2 linked regions of the Homo sapiens genome follow. The protein of the gene in region 2 purifies or fractionates together with the protein of the main gene of each other region. This does not show direct contact. Each region holds a gene or a part of one and is shown on either strand. Other genes may lie near its edges. The genes, in order: CDHR1 and PROM1.

Region 1 (3,816 bases), on a different chromosome or scaffold from region 2:
GAAGACTCCCTAGGCCCAGGCGATTAGCAATTAAAGAGAGGAATGTTGTTCTTTTTCTTTTCTTCTTTCCTTCTATCTTGTTAGAGACATACACCTAACACCTAGAAGAGAGCCTGGCACAGAAGATATACTCCAAACTTGTCACCCTAGGAATGGCTGAGTAAATTATTGAGAAATGAATAAATAACCGAACCTCATTCAGGCCTCAAAAGGGGTACATGTGCACGATTTTATAACATCAAACCGATGTCCCCAACATCAGCCTGTTGCTACTCTGCTTTATTGATCAAATGATGGTCGCTTAAGCCATGACCGCCTCATTCTGGAAACTAGGCCCTTCAGAGAACCCCTCCCTAGGTTGTTTGTGAGTTTCCTAAGGGGTCCTCCATGTGGCACATGCCAGTCTCCTGCCTCATTCCTCATGTGGCATCTTCTCCATTCTCCCTCTCCATCCCTTGGTGGCCAAGGCCTTGAAGACTGTCAGGATGTGCCACTGCCTGTCAACAGATGCCAACACCCCTGGCAGGTGGACTGGCCTTGGATTCCCTCAACGCCTTCAGTCCCTAAAAATAGAATCACCGAAATCCTTAGAGAAGCAGAGCATGGTGGCTCCTTCCCAGCTCTGATCACACTTTTCTAGCAGGATTCTGAGGGACAGCTGCTTGAGGACAGAGTGCCACAAGTTCTTAGAGACCTCTCATTGTTCCTAACTCCCCTGGAATGTCAACGCCCAAATGCAGGCTGCCGGCTACACAGGCCACAGATGCTGTGGCATCTGCCCTGTCCTCCACTCCCCTCTGGATCCACTCTCTTCTCTTTTTCTAGCATGAAGTAAAAGCTTCTGGACCTACAGGTGGGTGGAAACATCCTGGGGGGTGAGGATGCATGGAGGGGGTCCTCTCTTTCAGGACATGGTGTTCTAGTATGTGGGCCACAGTCACGGCAAGTGTCTACTGAGCTTGTGTAAGTAGATACAAAGCCGGTGCTAGGCACTTTACATATATTAGATCTTTTCATCCTCTCTGCAACCATACTTTGCACCCTGTGTTAATGAGGAAAGTGAGGCCCAGAGAGACTTGACCTCTTGCCCAAAGTCACAATTAATGGCAGAACCAGAATTCAGACCTAGGGCTGTCAAACTGTAAAGGACTTTGTTATTTCACGTGATTGGAAGATCTGAGCTCAGCCGCAGGAGGAAAATGACTCTGCAGAGTATTTGGTGTCACATCCATTTATTGTCCATGAGGCTACAGCTCCATTCTCAGGGCCAGGAATGGGCAAGCCTGCCCAGTGTGCCATTCCTGCCTCCCAGCTCTTTCCCTGGAGGCCTACCATGGTGCCAGCCTGGAGCTCTGCCTGTCCTACTGGGACCTAGCAGACAGCCCCTTGGCCCACCATTCGTAACACAGGGACTTGGCTGGCCTCACCCCACTGGCGGGGTCTCCTCCAGTGCTGACAACACTTGCCGGTGCCTTAAGTTTGGCTGCACCCTCCTCCTCTTTCCTAGTGTGGCTCATGCTGGCTACCGGGCACTTCCCCATCCATGGCCAGTTTGCAAGATTGGCTCTGCCTTGGTCCAAGTTCCTGGGGTTGTCCAAGAGACCACCCTCGGTCCCGGATCCACTTGCAAGCCCAAGCTTCCAGCCTAGAGGTCTTTAGGACGCCTGTCTGAGAGACGACAGTGCTTCCCAAGCTTTCATGCCCACCCTAGGCCTCCCAATTCCTGCCCTTGCCGGGCTGCACTGGTAGGGTGGGAGAGTGGGCAATTAATTCTAGCTCCAGGTTCCATTCCTCTCCATGCAGCCCTGCCTGGGCTTGTCCTGTTTGGGAGAAAAGTCCAGTAGACAAGGCCTGCAAATGTCCTGCTGTTCAAGATATCTGCATGGCAATTTGGACAAAAATTTTCAGCCTTCTTTAGAGTCACATCTGGGGGTCGAAGAATGGATCCACCTGCTGAAGCAGCCAGGAGGCAAGTTGAGCTTCACTGTGTGTCAGAAAGACTGGTCTCCACAGGTCAGCAAACATAAATGAAAGCAGGGAGCAGGGGATCAGCATGGCCTTTGGGTAACAGACTTTATTTTCCATTTACAAAAGAGGTTGATTGCATGCAAGCTGTAAGGATGCTGTATTCCCTGTGGAGGGCAAGCATGATCCAGCACAGTCCTCTCCTGAAACACAGGCTGGAAAGTACTTATTTGCTCAGTCTGGGCTCCTGGATTGCTCGAGTCCACCTCTTGCTTAATACTGTTCACGTTGGGGACTGTAGAAACCCCAGCAAGGATTCTGCACACTGGCACATCTCAGTAACACCTCCAAACACAGACTCAGAAATCAGGAAAGCCACAAATGCATACAATCTCTTTAAATGAAATCACCAATGTATTCTAGAGGGGTTGTTAGTAAGTAGAGCCAAATGCAAAGAACTGTTCTACTTTTCTCTCTCTGTGCACACATGTAGATTTCCTGATAGCAGGTTCCTTAAAGCAGGGCACAACCTATTTGTATTAACCCCAGAGGCCTTGTATGACTTCTGTCCTGGGGAAGGTTGTCACAAGCTGATAAGGGCTGCCCTGGCTAGACAAGATCTTTGCTACCAACCTGCTGTGTGGCCTCAAGCAAAGCATTCCCTCCTTGAGAACTCATTTTCTTCATCTTGGCAAATTAAAGACTTGGAGCTCTGGTTCTCTCTGACGGTAGCTGGCCAGGACGGTAGCGGGGATGGAGTGAGGGAAGAACAGAAGTAGAGGTGTGTGAGTCACGGCAATGCCATCATCCAGTGGTAGCCCCTAAGCCCAGCACAGTGCCTGCTGGGGCGCTTGGCAGAGTAGATGTGAGGCTCCTAATACTTTCTGGAAGAGCTGCACCCACAGAACTGGGCTGCAGAAAAATACTTTGCATTCATGCCGCTTTGCACTTGGTTAAAGCCCTCATCACCACTATTTTCTTCAATCCTCACCCTAGACCTGCATGTGAGGTAGACAGGGCCTACTTTCTTCATTTACAGATGAGGAAGAGGATGATCAGCGACTTTAAACAGCTTTCCCAAGGTTACGCGATGTGAGCAAAAGAGCTGGATAAAAACGGAAGTCTCACCACATCTCAGCCCTGATATTCATCAACTGCCCTGAATTGTCTCTTCAAGGATGGCTGGTGGGGCAGCTCCTCAGAGAGCAGCCCTGATGCTCTTCTAGTTGCCTTTAGGGCTACCTCTATAGCTCCAGCTTTGACATTTTGCGGCTCAGGGCAGTCCTGGCTGGAGACATCTGCCCTCACTCTTGGCAAGATCAATCTTCCACCTCTGTGTCCTCTGTCCCACGTGGGCATACCAGGGTCCACAGTCTCTGCCCAGACAGAATGCTCTATCTTTCCAAATGCATCCTGGCACAGTCCCACAGTCAGTGTGTTTTCTGTGCATCCTTGCTCTCCCCTTACCTACATTTGCTTTCCTACAGCCCACGAGGTTCGCTGACCTCCAGCCTGAGACAGTGCTGAGCCTCCTTTTCCTGCTCCTGCTCTCAGCTGCAGGCGTCAGGATCCAGATTCTAGTCAGTGTTGCTCCACGTGGCCAGGGCCCTGCTGCTTGACTAAGGATGATGATGAGATCCCAGTAGAACCTGAGGGACTGTGAGGTCTGGGATGGGTGAGCTGGCTTCTCGTCAATTCTCAGCCCTGAAGAATGGAGGGCATTGTAGTAGTGCCAAGGATTTGAGTAACGGGGACGTATTTGCCAATTGCATCCTAGAGCCCAATGTCTTGCCCAAGGCCCTGACTAGAGCCCTGTCAGAGCGCAACTTCTTGTTGCGCCAGAAGGTGGCG
Region 2 (3,816 bases):
ATGGGGCCTTTTCTGCCCAGGGACCTCAGGGCACAGAGCCTGGCAACTCAGTCAATGGCCAGTTTCTGCCCTCGACTAACCCCCTTGGCTGGGCCCCTCATGAAAGGCCTTGCACCACTGCACACCCTCGCCCTGTTCACAGAGGTAGCAAAGCACCTGCACGTAGTCACTGGTGTGTTTCCAGGTTCCCCTGGCATGAGACACACACCTATGAAATGGCAACTGTGATCAGAGGCATAGCGAGGGTCCTGGAGCAGAGTAAATCTAAACATCTTCAAAGGAGCTGAGCCATGATGTTGGTCTCACTGAGAAAAGTGGAAGGAGGAACATTTAGTTTTATCCTGTGGGGCTGATACCCAAAACCTGTCATGTACAGACTATTCCGTTCAATGAAAAAATATCTTCTGAGTTGCCCATTGGTACTGTAGATACAAGATGAATACAACCCAGCCTTGCAGCTCTGTGTCTGCTGAGGGAATGCTTGCAGCCCACACATGGCCCCTGTGGTAGGTAGATTGCATTAGCTGTTCAGGATTATTGATATGCTCCTTGGATGGCTTCCCAGAGCGTGGAGTATACTTCCCCAGCCAGACGACGATGTGTGTGACCATGTGACTTGCTTTGGCCAATGGAACGCTGGTGAAGGGGCAGGGTGCCCATTCTGAGCTTAAAGGACAACCTGTGCCTCCACTCATCCCCTGAACTCCTGTCCTCCACTATGAGGACATGAGGTGCCCCAGACAGGAGCTGCTCCTTCAGGCCGGGTCTCTCAATGGGAAGATGTGTAGAGAAGCCTGCTGTCAAACCAGCAGGGAAAATGAACATTTATACTTAGAAGGCACTGAGGTTTGGGATTGTGTGTTAGGCAGCATTATCTCTGTGAAAGGGACCAATGTACCTTCCAAGCTTGCATCCTACACATCAAAACATAGATTTCACCTATGTATCTAATAGCCTGCTAAGATGAGGTCTGCACTTAGAGAAGTACTTGTAGAAAGGAAATAGTAGGAAAGCCCAATTTGCTATTTAAAATAGGTAGATAACTGAGGCTTTTTTTTTCAACTTAAAGTACCTACAAAAATCCACATTTCTAGCATTCTTTGTGTGGTATTTTATAACAAAACCCCATGACAGAAAACAAAGTAAACCCTTACCAACAATCCATTCCCTGTGCGTTGAAGTATCTTGACGCTTTGGTATAGAGTGCTCTGGCAAGAAACAGATAATATTTCCAAAATTATTACATGAAGCAGCAAGATCACATACCTTGTGTCCTCCCTTCCCACAAGATAGCCATCAAATCTGTCTTTACACTGTAATGGTTTCATTCTAGAAAAAATAACCAACACAATTAACAATGTGTACTTTCTTTTTTTTTTTTTTTTTGAGATGGAGTCTCGCTCTGTCACCCAGGCTGGAGTGCAGTGGCACGATCTCAGCTCACTGCAAGCTCCGCCTCCTGGGTTCACGCCATTCTCCTGCCTCAGCCTCCTGAGTAGCTGGGACTACAGGCGTCCTCCACCACGCCCGGCTAATTTTTTGTATTTTTAGTAGAGACGGGGTTTCACCGTGTTAGCCAAGATGGTCTCGATCTCCTGACCTGGTGATCCACCCGCCTCGGCCTCCCAAAGTGCTGGGATTACAGGTGTGAGCCACCGCGCCTGGCCAACAATGTGTACTTTCTATGCCTCTGGTGTAAGAAAACCTGAAGAAAACATTGGATACATATCCTAAAGCTGTGAAGAACAGCAAATCACATGTGAGGCATCCAAGAAATCCCTTTGAATTAGGTTTGATCAAAGTGGAAGGCATTATTTAAAGCAGAGCCTGCCCCGCAAGAGTGGTTAACCTGAATGGTTTAGACAGGAGGTTGACAAACTTTATCTGTAAAACACCAGAGTAAACACTTTAGGTTTTATCTGCCATAGTCCCAACTACTCAACTTTGTCCTTGTAATCAAAAGCAGCCACAGAGAGTTTGCAAATGAGTGGGTGTGGCCATATTCCAATACAATTTTATTTACAAAAACTGCTGGTAGGCTGAATTTAGCCTGCAGGCTGTAGTTTGCAGGGTCCCTAGTTTGCCAACCCCTGGTTTAGATCATAGGTCTCAGGTAGGAAGCACTCTGCCTATTTGTGGACAGGTTGCCCTAGCTCTGAAAAGGCCAAAGGGTCCTGTGTACTTGGGAAAAAAGCATTTAAAAAAATGCAAAACCAGCTTAAAATGTTAACAAATTTGTGTTAGGCATAAACCAGTTACAGAAAATTGTAAATAGCACTGGACACAAATTAAGAAAATTCAGTGACAGGACTTTGTGAATAATCTAATAAATTAGGAAATCGAGAGAGAAAAAAAGAGTATTGGAAATTAGTTCTGGGAAGTTTAGTGGTTGGGATGTTCGGATGTTTGGATGTTGGGGCTAAGTGGATTTACTTGCTTGTCCAAACCTGAGCAAGCTGATTCAGTAACCCAGTTTCCACACACTTCTCTCCTTGATGGCTACAAATACGGCCCACACACAAGCATAATATAATAATTCCTCCTCTTTACTGAGATCCTCTGAGGTCAGGTCCTTCATTTCCATGAACAGGTAAGAGCAAGGCAGTTATTGATCCCAACATTTTTAGATGAGGAAACTGAGAAGCTACAATAGTTTGGAGAGCCAGAAGCAGAATTTAAAACCAGGTCTGTCTAACTCCAAAGCCCACATTCTTTCTTTGTTAGAAACTGCCTTTATTGCATTAAGAAAAGAAGCCAGAAGGTGGTGAGAAGCAAATGGAAAGGATGGAAGAGAGGAGAGACGAAGCAACGCCCATCGAGACAGCAGACAGGGCTAAGTGGATCTACACAGAGAAGCACTTAACCTCACCTTCACATATTTCTAGACAAAGCTCGGAGAAAAAGAATCAAGTGAGTCCACAGCATTGTAGCTAAATGCGGGGCATAGGAGGGCCTGCTCACAGCAATGGAAACTAGAGCAAGGTGGAAGAGACAGCCACAGATTTTATCTAACTGTTCACACTCAAATGAAAAACGGAAGGGAATAAGCAGCAGAGGGAGGTGCAATTATTTTGTCTAAAGGCCAGCTCAACTTCTGGGGCTGAAGCCAGTCAGCTGGGACCTATGAGAGATGAGCATGTGTCGTGAGGCTAAATGAAAGCCAACTAGCTGCAGTAGATTTTGCTCAGGTCACAGTGAAATACAATACGTCGTTGACTGTTACCAGTGATTGTTCTATAGGAAGGACTCGTTGCTGGTGAATTGTTTTAATAGTTTGTGCATCTCTTTTCAGGGAGTTCCTCAAATTTCCTGGGGGCTACAAAAAGAATAAAAAACAAAGATCAATACCATCTTTCCAGACTCAAAGCACTCTCGCTATCCTCAGGGGCCCTGTGTAGCCAGGAGGGCTGCCATGACATAAGCATGCAATGATGGCTGTGAGTGGGCATGGGGGCTGGTGTGAGGGATAGTGCCAAGACACCCTCCTTCAAAGCACAGAACCATGGACTCTCAGCAATAACCCACACCCAAGAGCCCTTCCTGAGTGCCAGAGACTGTGTTCTCTCCACCTCACCATGATACAGCCACTCTCAGTTTCCCATTTTACAGGTGAGAAAACCAAGGACCCATAGAGAAATTTTTATTTAACCCACACTCAATGAATGTTTAATTTATTAATGAATAACAATCCTATAAGGTAGATACCATTACCCCATTTTACAGATGAGGAAACTAAGGCAGAAGGGAGAAATAACTTGCCTAAGCTCCTATACCGAGTCAAGACTTAGACCCAGGTCTTCTTCAAGAGCCCAGGTT

What was found.
Region 1: the proteins of PROM1 (region 2) and CDHR1 purify together in Homo sapiens (affinity purification with western blotting; one study listed by BioGRID). This does not show direct contact.

What each region holds. Positions count from the first base shown.
Region 1 is NC_000010.11:84,214,766-84,218,581, reverse strand, and holds part of CDHR1 (cadherin-related family member 1 isoform 1 precursor), read right to left. Parts: 3' UTR 1-3,816. UniProt on the Homo sapiens protein: Potential calcium-dependent cell-adhesion protein. May be required for the structural integrity of the outer segment (OS) of photoreceptor cells.
Region 2 is NC_000004.12:15,986,509-15,990,324, forward strand, and holds part of PROM1 (prominin-1 isoform 1 precursor), read right to left. Parts: intron 3,317-3,816; coding exon 3,224-3,316; intron 1,209-3,223; coding exon 1,155-1,208; intron 1-1,154. UniProt on the Homo sapiens protein: May play a role in cell differentiation, proliferation and apoptosis. Binds cholesterol in cholesterol-containing plasma membrane microdomains and may play a role in the organization of the apical plasma membrane in epithelial cells.